2 linked regions of the Homo sapiens genome follow. The protein of the gene in region 1 interacts with the protein of each later gene in a pairwise test. Each region holds a gene or a part of one and is shown on either strand. Other genes may lie near its edges.

Region 1 (6,875 bases):
CTTCCCAATTTGCCAGCGACTAACAGGATTTGCATCCCTTTCTTGGAGGGGAGGTAGGGAATACTACAGGCTGTAATTCATCCTCAGGGCTCAAGACTCATCTTAGAGGTATCTGAGATCTGCCTTACCTGCTCCCAACCCTCACGTGACCCCCATGGCATGGCCTTGGTGCCTCTCACCTCTGCTCCTACCTGCACCCTGCTCCCACCAGGACACATCACAGCAGTCCACACACTGAGCTGCTTTCAAATCCCCTTTTACCAGTCTGGACCCACCTCCACTCCCCTACAGACACACACACAAATTGTGAAGTGTGTAAGGACAAGGACAGACATTTGTTCCCACTTGTTTTCCCAGCACAGCACATAGTAGATCCAATAAACAGCTTTCCCCCATGACCCCCTCAGACATGGATCAGCCATGGGACTTGGGGCTGGGGGGTAGGCGTCTCCCTTCCAGGAGTCAATAGTGGGGCAGGCAGGATTGAGAGTAGCTTAGCTCAGCCCAGATATCTCAGCACATCCACACATCCGACCACATGACCCAGGAATTCCCCAAGACTGCTGGTGGCAGAGTCCCCGACCAACACGGATTCCCTGTCAGGCACTCTCGCTTTCCCACCAACTAGACCTCCTTTAAGGAATTTGAGATATGAGTTTCAGCAGCTTAGATCATTTCCGAGTCACATGCTGTTCTGGCTCTGTGTCTTCCTTGCCTACCTGCTGTGATCTTTGGTCACCCATGGCTCCTCACCTAGATGGGAATTCAGATTGTAGTCAAAGGAAGCTGGAGCAGGGGTGAGAAGGTCCAAGAAGTTGCAGATGATTCCCTCCCGACCATGGCCAGATAGCTGGTAATGGAGTGGGCCCAATCACATGTAGGTGCTTTTAGTTTCATCTTTGGATTCCATCGCACATCCATTCCTTCAGTTCATAAGCATCTATGGAGCGACTTTTAGGTGCCTCGCAGCACACTGGGTGTTGGGGATACCTGGAAAAAATTACAGGAGTGTAGCTAGATTAAGCCTTAAAAGAAGCGTTAAGCTCATCTGTATAATTCTTTCATCTTATGAAGAAATGTTGATTCAGCTGGCCAATTGCCACTTGTCCTTCAGGTCTCAACTTAAAAAGTCCTGGCTTTAGGAACCTGCGCCTGACCAGCCTCCTCCCACCTGGGATACATATCTTAAAGAAAATCTGAGCCGGGCGCAGTGGTTTACACCTGTAATCCCAACACTTTGAGAGGCCAAGGCGGGCAGATCACCTGAGGTCAGGAGTTCAAGACCAGCCTGACCAACATGGAGAAACTCTGTCTCTACTAAAAATACAAAATTAGCCGGGTGTGGTGGCGCATGCCTGTAATCCCAGCTACTCAGGAGGCTGAGGCAGAAGAATCGCTTGAACCCGGGAGGCGGAGGCTGTGGTGAGCCGAGATCACACCACAGCACTCCAGCCTGGGCAACGAAAGCAAAACTCCGTCTCAAAAAAAAAGAAAAGGCAATCTGTTCTTCTTCCATCATGGACCCTTCTCCCTCTGTACAGGATTTACTTGTTTATTTCTCACTAGACTGAGAACATTCCAAAGGCAGGAATCTTGTCATGATTGTGTCCCCAGGCTCAGCACCTAGTGGGCACCAGTATTTGTAGAATGAAGTAATTAGTAGAAGGCCACAGAACTGGTTAGTGTCAGAGTCAGGACTCGAACTCAGGTCCCCCAACACTCGGCCCTGTGCTTGCTCTTATGTTATCCATACTTCCTTTTGAGAATTCTAATCATCTGGATGAGCCCCCAGGAATAGAAGCAGATTTCAGAGGGGAAAGGAGATAGCAAGTCAAGGCAACTATCTCTGGGCCTCATCCTATTTGCACAGAAAACCCACAGCAAAAGGGGAGGCTGGTGGAGGGAAGAATGCCAAACCAGCTGCCACCTCCTGTGGCCCTCCAAATTTGGGAGCGATACATTGGTTTCCTGTGTAAGATGGATCCTCTCCAGTCACAAAGGAGATAAAGAGCTCCATGGAGGGATGGAGACATCTGTAACTCACACTAGAAAAATAATCAAAGGATCAGTGGAAGTAGAAAAGTGGGCAGCCACTGGGGGTGGGTCCTTCTCCATCCTCAGCATGCCCTGGATACACAGGGGAGGCACCATCCTCCTGAAGGCCTGAGGGGAAGGCTGGCTCTCCAGCATAGCTAGAATCCATCCAGGGCCCTAAACTGGCTGGCAGAAGGGGTTTCCCTCAGGGAAGAGGATCCAGGTCTATTGTCCTCTATTCTCTTCCTCAGGACCAGGGTCTAAATCCCGCCACTTTATTACCAGTTGTGTGGCCTTGGACAGAATAATACTCATTTCACAGGATTAGGTTATCAAGATGGCCAAAGGGGAAATGTTCCCTTTCTGCCATTTAAAGCAAGAAGGAAAACCTATGGCCATTCTCATTTCACTGTAAATGAGCACTCAGAGTGGAGATTCTGGACCTAGCAACTCCAGGCCTCAAAAACTAAGTCAAGCTGGGCGCAGTGGCTCACGCTTGTAATCCCAGTACTTTGGGAGGCCGAGGCGGGCGGATCACGAGGTCAGGAGATCAAGACCATGGTGAAACCCTGTCTCTACTAAAAATACAAAAAATTAGCCGGGCGTGGTGGCGGGCGCCTGTAGTCCCAGCTACTCGGAGAGGCTGAGGCAGGAGAATGGCGTGAACCCGGGAGGCGGAGCTTGCAGTGAGCAGAGATCGCACCACTGCACTCCAGCCTGGGCGACAGAGGGAGACTCCGTCTCAAGTCAAACCTCATAACCTACCACCAGTGCTCCTGGCACCAAAATCACAAGAAAACCTTGGGTGGAGCAACCATTTTCAGACTTAGGGACACAGGTTAGATAGTCGGCATGTAAAAATGTTAAATAAATATGTATCCCTTCGGGTTCTCTCCACCTCCAGCCGACACATCCTAAATAAATTCCACTAAGTGGTTGAGGGAATCTACTAAACCTTAGAAGCCCTCTTTTTTTTTGAAACGGAGCCTCACTTTGTTGCCCAGGCTGGAGTGCAGTGGCGCCATCTTGATTCACTGAAACCTCTGCCTCCTGGGTTCAAGCGATTCTTCTGCCTCAGCCTCCAGAGTAGCTGGGATTACAAGCGCGCACCACCACGCCCGGCTAATTTTGTATCTTTAGTGGAGATGGGATTTCGTCATGTTGGCTAGGTTGGTCTTGAACTCCTGGACCTCAAGCGATTCGCCTAAGAAGCCCTCTTTGAGGAAGAAGGAAGAAGTTTCCAGGGCCATTGGATTCCAATATCCAAGTAAGGTTGATCTAACTGAAGACAAGTGAACTCGAACCATAGGACAGCTCTGCACTAACCCTCCCACTAGGCTGGATTCTGCCTCTGTTCCATCCCAGCTCCCTTTCTCCTTTATGGACTCAATGAAGTGGTCAAGCAATTATAGATTTTGGCTTGGGACAAGCAAATTACTCAGGATGAAGAAATACTTTGGTGACCTTTAGTGCCCTCAGATCGCCCCTTGCCAACTGAGAACAGAGTACAATAAAACAACAGGGCATTAAGCAGGACCAAGCGCCACTCAGAGGCAAGTGCAGCTCCAAGGGCCCTCAGAGTAAGCTTCTGGGCCTCAGGCGGCCTTCGCTGGAATCCCCTAGTCCCCATTCCTGGTGGGCGGGTTCCATTGACACCTTTCCCGGCCACGCCGAGGGGGAGGAGGCGGGGCCTGGAGCCCCGGAGAGCCAATGTGGACGGCCGTGGTCACGCGCCGCCGTCGAGCAGGCCAATGGGCGCCGGGGGGCGTGTCCAGGGCCTCGGGCTCAGGGCGTTTATAACAACTTGGAATGCTGTGCTTTACTGCGCGCTCTGGTACTGCTGTGGCTCCCCGTCCTGGTGCGGGACCTGTGCCCCGCGCTTCAGCCCTCCCCGCACAGCCTACTGATTCCCCTGCCGCCCTTGCTCACCTCCTGCTCGCCATGGAGTCGCTGGTTTTCGCGCGGCGCTCCGGCCCCACTCCCTCGGCCGCAGAGCTAGCCCGGCCGCTGGCGGAAGGGCTGATCAAGTCGCCCAAGCCCCTAATGAAGAAGCAGGCGGTGAAGCGGCACCACCACAAGCACAACCTGCGGCACCGCTACGAGTTCCTGGAGACCCTGGGCAAAGGCACCTACGGGAAGGTGAAGAAGGCGCGGGAGAGCTCGGGGCGCCTGGTGAGTGCGGCTCCCTCTCGCGGCGCGGGGCGGGCTCCGGCTTGGCCGCCGGCAGGGAGCGGAGGAGGGCGGGCGGCGGCTCGCTCGTTGCTCGGCGGAGAGGCCAGCGTGGTCTTTACCGCGCTGAGCTTGCGGGGCTACTGCGGGGTGTCCCTGGCAGATGTGTCAGTCCGTGATTGCAGGGACAGTGGTCGCAAACTTGCGAACCCCAGCCAGCAACACCGTACTGCTGTGATGATTGCCAAATAAAAGGGAGGCTATGGATAGTTGGCGCGGAAAAACGAATCGTGTCGTGTCCTGGGATAAGATGGATGGGACTTAAGTTGAGTTTTGCTGGGAAAAGACTGTTCAATAGAGTGCAATGGAAAGAGGAAGTAGAAGGCACCCCATCTTAATAGGTATTTGGTAAATATGTGTGTGGTTGAATGAATGGATGAGGTGTGGATTTCCCCAACTCCAAGAATCTGGCAACCCAGCACACTGGAGCTCTGGCACGGGGTGGGTTTTGACATTTAGGTCCTTTCCAGCTCTAAAATTTAGTTGAAATTTCATTATGATGAGTTTTTGATTCTGGAAAATGTGAAACCAGGTCCACTGTACCAGAGACACCTTTCGGTTTGGGGGCCTTTTCAAGAACATGCCCTGTTACTTTGGTGCGAGCGTAGGAGTCTAGCAGTCTGTGTGACCTTGGGCAATTTCCTTCATCTCTGTACTTTGTTTCCCCTTTTGCAGAACTGTAGAAAACACAGCCTGCCTCACAAGCTGCTGTGAGGATTGAATAAGATCGAAATATGAACTTATATTGCTCCTAACACATAGAACTTGCGGTGAGATAGCCGGGCGCGGTGGCTCACGCCTGTAATCCCAGCACTGTGGGAGGCCGAGGCGGGCGGATCGTGAGGTCAGGAGATCGAGACCATCCTGGCTAACACAGTGAAACCCCGTCTCTACTAAAAATACAAAAAATTAGCCGGGCGTGGTGGCGGACGCCTGTAGTCCCAGCTACTCGGGAGGCTGAGGCAGGAGAATGGCCTGAACCCAGGAGGCGGAGCTTGCAGTGAGCCGAGATCGTGCCACTGCACTCCAGCCTGGGCAACAGAGCGAGACTCCGTCTCAAAAACAAAACAAAACAAAACAAAACGAAACAAACAAAAAAAGAACTTGCAGTGAGAATTTCTGGAAAGGGCAGCCCAGAAAGGATGGCAAATTTGTCAAAAGTTAGTTAGCAGTGGTTAACTGGTTCTCAAACTTGAGTTTAAAGTACGTAAGGATCACCTGGGATGTTTGTTTAAAATACTTACATTCTCTGGTTCCACACCCAGAGTAATTTATTCTGAAGGTCTAGGATAGGGCCATATAATGTATATTTTAACAAGCCTTTTAGAGCAGGTGGTTTAGGCATTATTATGTTTTGCCAAATCCAGTTGGGTGCTGGTTGTGAGGGGGTGTGTGTGTGTGTGTGTGTGTGTGTGTATGGTTTGCCCTATTGGCTACATCAGCAGTTACTTCCCCAGATTGTGTTTGCTTTTGCAGCCAGTAGCTGGTTTGAAATTCAAGAAGTCATTTCATTGGTGAAGGAGAGTGGATGTTGGAGAAAGGGGTAGATTATGGCCCCATCAATAGGACCGAGTATGTTTTTCCTGCTATCGCCTGGCACAGTCCCCAGTTGCCTGCTGCCAGGTTACAGCTATTGGGCAATCATGTACTTCCTGGCTTGCCTTTTCTTTCTCTTTCTGCAAAGTGTGAGGGCCCGGTGAGGCTCCAGGCTTGAGGCTGTTGGACCCAGGCTTTGTCAGGGGCTTAGCTGGAAAATAGCTGCTGGTGGCTTGTGCTTCGTGCCTCTTGGGGGTGGAGACACTGGGTCGTGGGGACTGGGGTGGCCCAGAGACTGAGAAACTGAGATTGAAGTTCAGAGTTCCCATCAGGCTCTTGACCCAGGTCACTGTGGGGTGTGTGTGTGGATGTGCATGAGAGAGAGAGAGTAAGAGAGAGATCTCATTTGATTCCAGAATGAGATAAACTAGCTTTCAGTTTTCAAACTTAAGTGGATTTAGGCAGGGATTCCAGCTCTTATTACATCAGAAGATACTCCCTGGCCTCATGCCTCTTGCTCTATGTAGGAAGCCAAGATCAGTAGGCATGGGACCTGCTGTGAACCTCCCTGATCCATAGACCACCCAGTTCTGCAGCTGGGAACTTGCTCAGGGTCTCCTTCCTTCTTGGAGAGCAGCTGCCTGCTGTGCTAATGGTTTCTCAATTCTGGAGCATTGCCTCTTCCCCACCCCACCCCACCCCTGCCTCTTGACTGTCCTTCGTGAATCGAGAGAGACCTAGTGCCTCAGGATACTTCAGTGCGGGAGAGGGGTGTGGGAGCTTGCCCAAGACCTCCCCTAGAATGAATTGAGATTGTTGGTGGGAGCTAGATTCAGAGGAAAGCCAGCTGGGTGACTTCCATCCCAATTTTCTCTCCACCTTTCTAGCACACTTCCCGCTCCCAACCTGCCTAGATGGGATTATCAGGGCCAGATGGGATTGGCTGAGGGAAGGGCAGGTGGGCGGAACTAATGGCTGCTCTAGGAGGACATCAAAGGAAAAACAAATATTTGCTCTGGCTCTTCAATACATTCCTGGTATCCAAATGACATTTCCTCCTGGGACTCACCCAGCTC
Region 2 (5,076 bases), on another chromosome or scaffold:
GGAAGAACCTACAGCTCCAGCTTCTCTCAACCCAAAAATCTGAGAACCCCTCCCCTTTTCTCCTCACCTAAACCCATCTCCTACTTTGGGCGCAGCACACATATTTTCTTGTCAACTTTTCCCCAAGCCCACCAACTTGGATTCAGATTGCGACATGCAGGACAGGCCAGTCATTCTCTCTCTCTGACTTTCTGTTTAATCATCTGTGGGCTAATTCCCCCTTCTCTGGTGCCATAAATTATGTGGCTCATAGTAGGTGCACCATCCAAGGAGAAGGTCCCTTTTTCCAACTTGTAATGATCACTAATTATTATTGCCGGCTGTCATGTCAGCCTCCTTACCAGCCACTTTCCTTTGGAAATAACTTTTTTATTGTTCCACAAATAGTATGTGCTCATTGTAGTACATTTTTTAAAAACCACAAATGAGCAAAGATTTTTTTAAAACCTTAAATGTCTGGCCGGGTGTGGTGGCTCATCCCTATAATCCTACACTTTGGGAGGCCAAGGTGGGCGGATCACTTGAGCTCAGGAGTTTAAGACCAGCCTGGGAAACGTGGTAAAACTCCGACTCTATTTAAAAAAAAAACAAAAACAAAAAAACCTTAAATGTCAAAAAAAAATAATATTTTCACCATCCAGACGTCACCATTATAAATTCTTAGTTCAGGGCTGGGCGCGGTGGCTCATGCCTGTAACCCTAGCACTTTGGGAGGCTGAGGCGGGCAGATCACTTGAGGTTAGGAGTTTGAGAACTGGCCTGGCCAACATAGCAAAACCTCATCTCTACTAAAATACAAAAATTAGCCGGGCGTGGTGGTGCGTGCCTGTAGTCCCAGCTACTCGAAAGGTTGAGGCAAGAGAATCGCTTGAACCTGGGAGGTGGAGGTTGCAATGAGCCGAGATCACACCACTGCACTCCAGCCTGGGCAACAGTGAAACTCCATCTCAAAAAATAAATAAATAAAATAAATTCTTAGTTCATACCCTTCCAGAATTCTCTCTCTTTTTAAAACCTAGATGAGATTAACCTGTTTTTTATTCAACTGTTGTCTCTACCTTCCCAATTTGATCAATTTTCATGTCATTGGCTGGGTGCGGTGGCTCCTGCCTATAATCCCAGTACTTTGGGAGGCCGAGGCGGGCAGATCACTTGAGGTCAGGAGTTCAAGACCAGCCTGGCCAACATGGTGAAACCCCATCTCTACTAAAAATACAAAAATTAGCTGGGCGTAGTGGCGCGTGCCTGTAATTCCATCTACTCGGGAGGCTGAGGCAGGAGAATCGCTTGATCCTGGGAGTTGGAGGTTGCAGTGAGCCAAGATCTTGCCATTGCACTCCAGCCTGGGCAACAAGAGTGAAATTCTGTCTCAAAAAAAAAAAAAAAATTCATGTCGTCTGATACTTTGACCTTAACCAGATTTCTCTAGTTGGCCCCAGAATGTCCTTTCTTGCTGGTTTTATGAAAACTAGCATTCAGATTCAGAGCACATGTTACATCTGGTTGTTTTATGGCCCTTAAATCTCTTTAGTGCGGTCCCTTTTTTCCTGAGACCAATTTGTTGAAGAGGCCAGCCCAGTCACCCCACAGGAAGTATGCTACCTTTTGGGTTTTTCTGCTGGCTTCCTGGTGGTATGATTTAACATGTCCCTCTCTTCCAGTTTTCCTGTCAGCTGAAAGTTAGATCTCATTTGCTTTGGGATCTTCCTTCAATCCTCTCCACAAGGCTCTGATGTGGTTACTCTCTACCCCCATTTAGGCAGAGGAGAAAACAGAGTCTGAGGGTACCAAGATGGGCCAACAGTCCCAGCTTCAGGGCCCATGTTCTCTCACCCACCTCTGGCCTGGTTCTCCTCCCCAGTCCCTGACACCTGTCTGGGGTCGGTGGTGCTGAGCCCGGGGCTGGCCTCTCCCCTTCTCTTTCCTGCAGTCCTTATCCAGCAGCCCTCAAGCCCAGCCCCCTCGGCCAGCAGAGCTGTCAGATGAGGAAGTGGCTGAGCTCTTTCAGCGGCTGGCAGAGACACAGCAGGAGAAATGGATGCTGGAGGAGAAGGTGCTGCCTGCCTGCCTGCCTGCCCATCCCCACTTGAAGTGCCCTTGTGGGTGTGGGGTCTGCCCGGGCCCGCCTCATGTGTGAACATGTACAGTAGAGGGGTCTCAGGTGGGCTGGGCCATCTTGCAGGTGAAGCACCTGGAAGTGAGCAGTGCTTCCATGGCAGAGGACCTCTGCCGGAAGAGCGCCATCATTGAGACCTACGTCATGGACAGCCGGATCGGTCAGTGTCCCCTCCCCGGCCCTCAGCCCTGGTCCAGCCTTCACCTGGCCCTCCCTCTCCATTCTGTGCTGCGGCTTCTCTCCTCTCCTCTCGGAACTCAGCGAAGCTACTGACAAGACCATGGCCTGTGGAGGGGAGAACAGGAAAGCACTGTCTCTTGATCTCGCCTCCTCCCTCTTCTCTCTTTCTCTGTCATCTCTCCACTCTCCATTCTCCATTGTGTCTCTCTGTCCACTTTCTCCTTTCCTCTCCCTGTGCCTCATCTTCCTCTCCTCTCTCTCTCCCTTCTCTCTTCTCCGTTTCTCTTTTTCACCCCACTCCTTCATCTTGTCTCGCTGTCTATATTGTTTTCCTTCTCTGTATCTTCATTGCTTTTGCTTTCTTTCAAACTTTCTCCTTCACAGATTTTTCTTTATTAATCAGAATCATACTGACCAACATGTGCTGAGGACTTTCTGTGTGCTCTGTGCTTCACATACAGTCATGTGCATCTTTCCAGTTCCACAAGTTAGTTATCCTCATTTCTCGGGGCCATAGAGCTAGTGAGTGACAGAGCTAGGTTTTGTATGTCAAAGCCTCTGTCCTACATGACATGGCTTTTCCTGCTGCCTTCTCCCCTGGTATTCGTCTCCCTCTTTTCTCCTCTGGCTCTGCCTGGCTCTCCTCTGGCTCTGCCGAGGGGGTGGTTTTCAGCCTGGGCCCTTGCAGATGTGTCTGTGGCAGCAGGCCACACAGACCGCAGCGGGCTGGGCAGCGTCCTGAGAGACCTAGTGAAGCCAGGTGACGAGAACCTTCGGGAGATGAACAAGAAGCTGCAGAACATGCTGGAGGAGCAGCTCACCAAGAATATGCACTTGCACAAGGCAAGTGTGGCCTGCCAGCCTACCCATCTGTTCACCCAGCCACCTGCCTACCCAGCCACATAGCCCCTGGGTCATCTGCCAGTCCCCTTGCCCACCCACCCAGCCTGTCCTCCCAGCTATCCTCCTACCCACTCATCAACTACTCCATCATGCTCTCATCTTCCACCCTCTCATCAACTTATTATCCATTCATTCCTTCCATGTACCCGCTCATCCATTTATCTACACATTCACCCAACCATTTGCCCATCTGTCCATCTACCCAATCTACTACTTACTTATCTCATTGTCTACCCCATGTCCTGCCACCCATTTCTTGACATATCATTCTCTTATCTACTCATCAATTGCCCCTTGTGTTACCTTTCACCCACCCAGTTACCTGCCTGCCCACCTGTTGATCTCCATCTGTCCTCTGGACAATTCATTCGTCCACCAATTTGTCTACCATAGATCCCCCATGCCCATGGGTCCACACACACATCTTTCTGCCCAAACTGCCACCCAAGGACTTTCCCCATCTCTGAGAGTTAGAAAGGGGTCAGACCCAGCTCCTGCCTTTGAGAAGCAAGCTCACACTTAGAAGAGCAGGTGGCCAGAGTGGTGGTGTATCCTGCAGCAGCACCATGCCACAGGAGGCATCCCACTCCCATTATCTGTAGCTCCCCACCCATCCTCATGACTTTTCTGAGCCCTGCCCACTGTTGGGGGTGCTGTGAGCTTCTCCAAGTACCTTCTCATCCCAGGCCAGACACAGCTGAGCATTGATTAATGAAAGGGTGTGAGGGAAATCACAGATGATACCCTACGTTTGGCAAGGGAGCAGCCTGTCCCCTTCTCTGGCCCCTGATGGTTCATTTGTTTCTTAGGATATGGAAGTTCTGTCCCAGGAAATTGTGCGGCTCAGCAAGGAGTGCGTGGGGCCTCCTGACCCAGACCTAGAGCCAGGAGAAACCAGCTAAAGACCTGCAGGCTGCACCCACCTCCTCCCCTTCCTACCCCCTAGGATGCTATTCCCTTGGGCTGTGGTGGAAAAATGAGGGCTGGAGCCAAAATCAAATAGCTTGGGAGACTGGACATTAAAGGGGCTAGAGGCCTGATGGTTAGTGTTAATGATCCTGTCTTAGGGCAGAGGCCACCAGGGAGTGGGGATCCTGAGGGAAGGGGCAGGGATTTCTCCTTCTTCTTGGTCCTGGCTCCCAAGGGCTTCTGTCTTCATCTCTGCATGAGCTCTCCTTCCCAGAGACCAACTCTTTTTATTTTATTTTATTTTATTTTTTAATTTATGTCTGGAGCCTGGCTACTCTGCATTTGGGATTGGGGATGCTGGGTGGGTGTGTGGTCCATGTTCAGCGTTCTAGCAACACGTGTGTGTGTGTGTGTGTAAAGGCTATGCAGCCAAAATACCATCTGGCCAGACGGGCCCACCCACTGACTGTCTCGTCTCGTTCTTTTCAACCAGGAGGAATATGCTGGGGGCGGGGAGGTTTACACCATTGGAATAGGGAGAGAGGTCTCTGGCTGCAACGTTACTCTCTTTTCCCCACCCTCATCCAGCCTGTCTCCATTTACTGCTGACCAGCCCCTCAAACTGAGTGGAGCTGAAATACCTGCAGATATGTACATGGGTAGACATGTATGGGATTGTGGGTATAGATGAGTAGACAGATGGGAGGATGGATAAGTGGTTGGATGGACCGATGGATGTATAAGTGAACGGTTGCATGGACTGATGATGGATAGATTGGGAAATAAATGGATGGATGGATAGGTGGTTAGATGAATAAATGGGTAGATAGATTGGTAGGTGGATAGAGGATGGATAGTAGAGATGTAAATGGACAGATGGATAATAGGTCTATGGACAAATGGGTGGATGATTTAGGTAGACAGGTGGATGGATGGGTTTATGGACAGGTTAGGAGTAAATGGACCAA

The links.
Region 2: the proteins of NUAK2 (region 1) and GRIPAP1 interact in binary tests that used the Homo sapiens proteins (3 or more experiments, as listed by UniProt).

The regions. Positions count from the first base shown.
Region 1 is NC_000001.11:205,318,729-205,325,603, reverse strand, and holds the start of NUAK2 (NUAK family SNF1-like kinase 2), read left to right. Parts: upstream 1-3,858; 5' UTR 3,859-3,975; coding exon 3,976-4,206; intron 4,207-6,875. UniProt on the Homo sapiens protein: Stress-activated kinase involved in tolerance to glucose starvation. Induces cell-cell detachment by increasing F-actin conversion to G-actin. Expression is induced by CD95 or TNF-alpha, via NF-kappa-B.
Region 2 is NC_000023.11:48,973,218-48,978,293, reverse strand, and holds the end of GRIPAP1 (GRIP1-associated protein 1), read left to right. Parts: intron 1-1,930; coding exon 1,931-2,053; intron 2,054-2,182; coding exon 2,183-2,276; intron 2,277-2,984; coding exon 2,985-3,139; intron 3,140-4,008; coding exon 4,009-4,101; 3' UTR 4,102-4,571; downstream 4,572-5,076. UniProt on the Homo sapiens protein: Regulates the endosomal recycling back to the neuronal plasma membrane, possibly by connecting early and late recycling endosomal domains and promoting segregation of recycling endosomes from early endosomal membranes.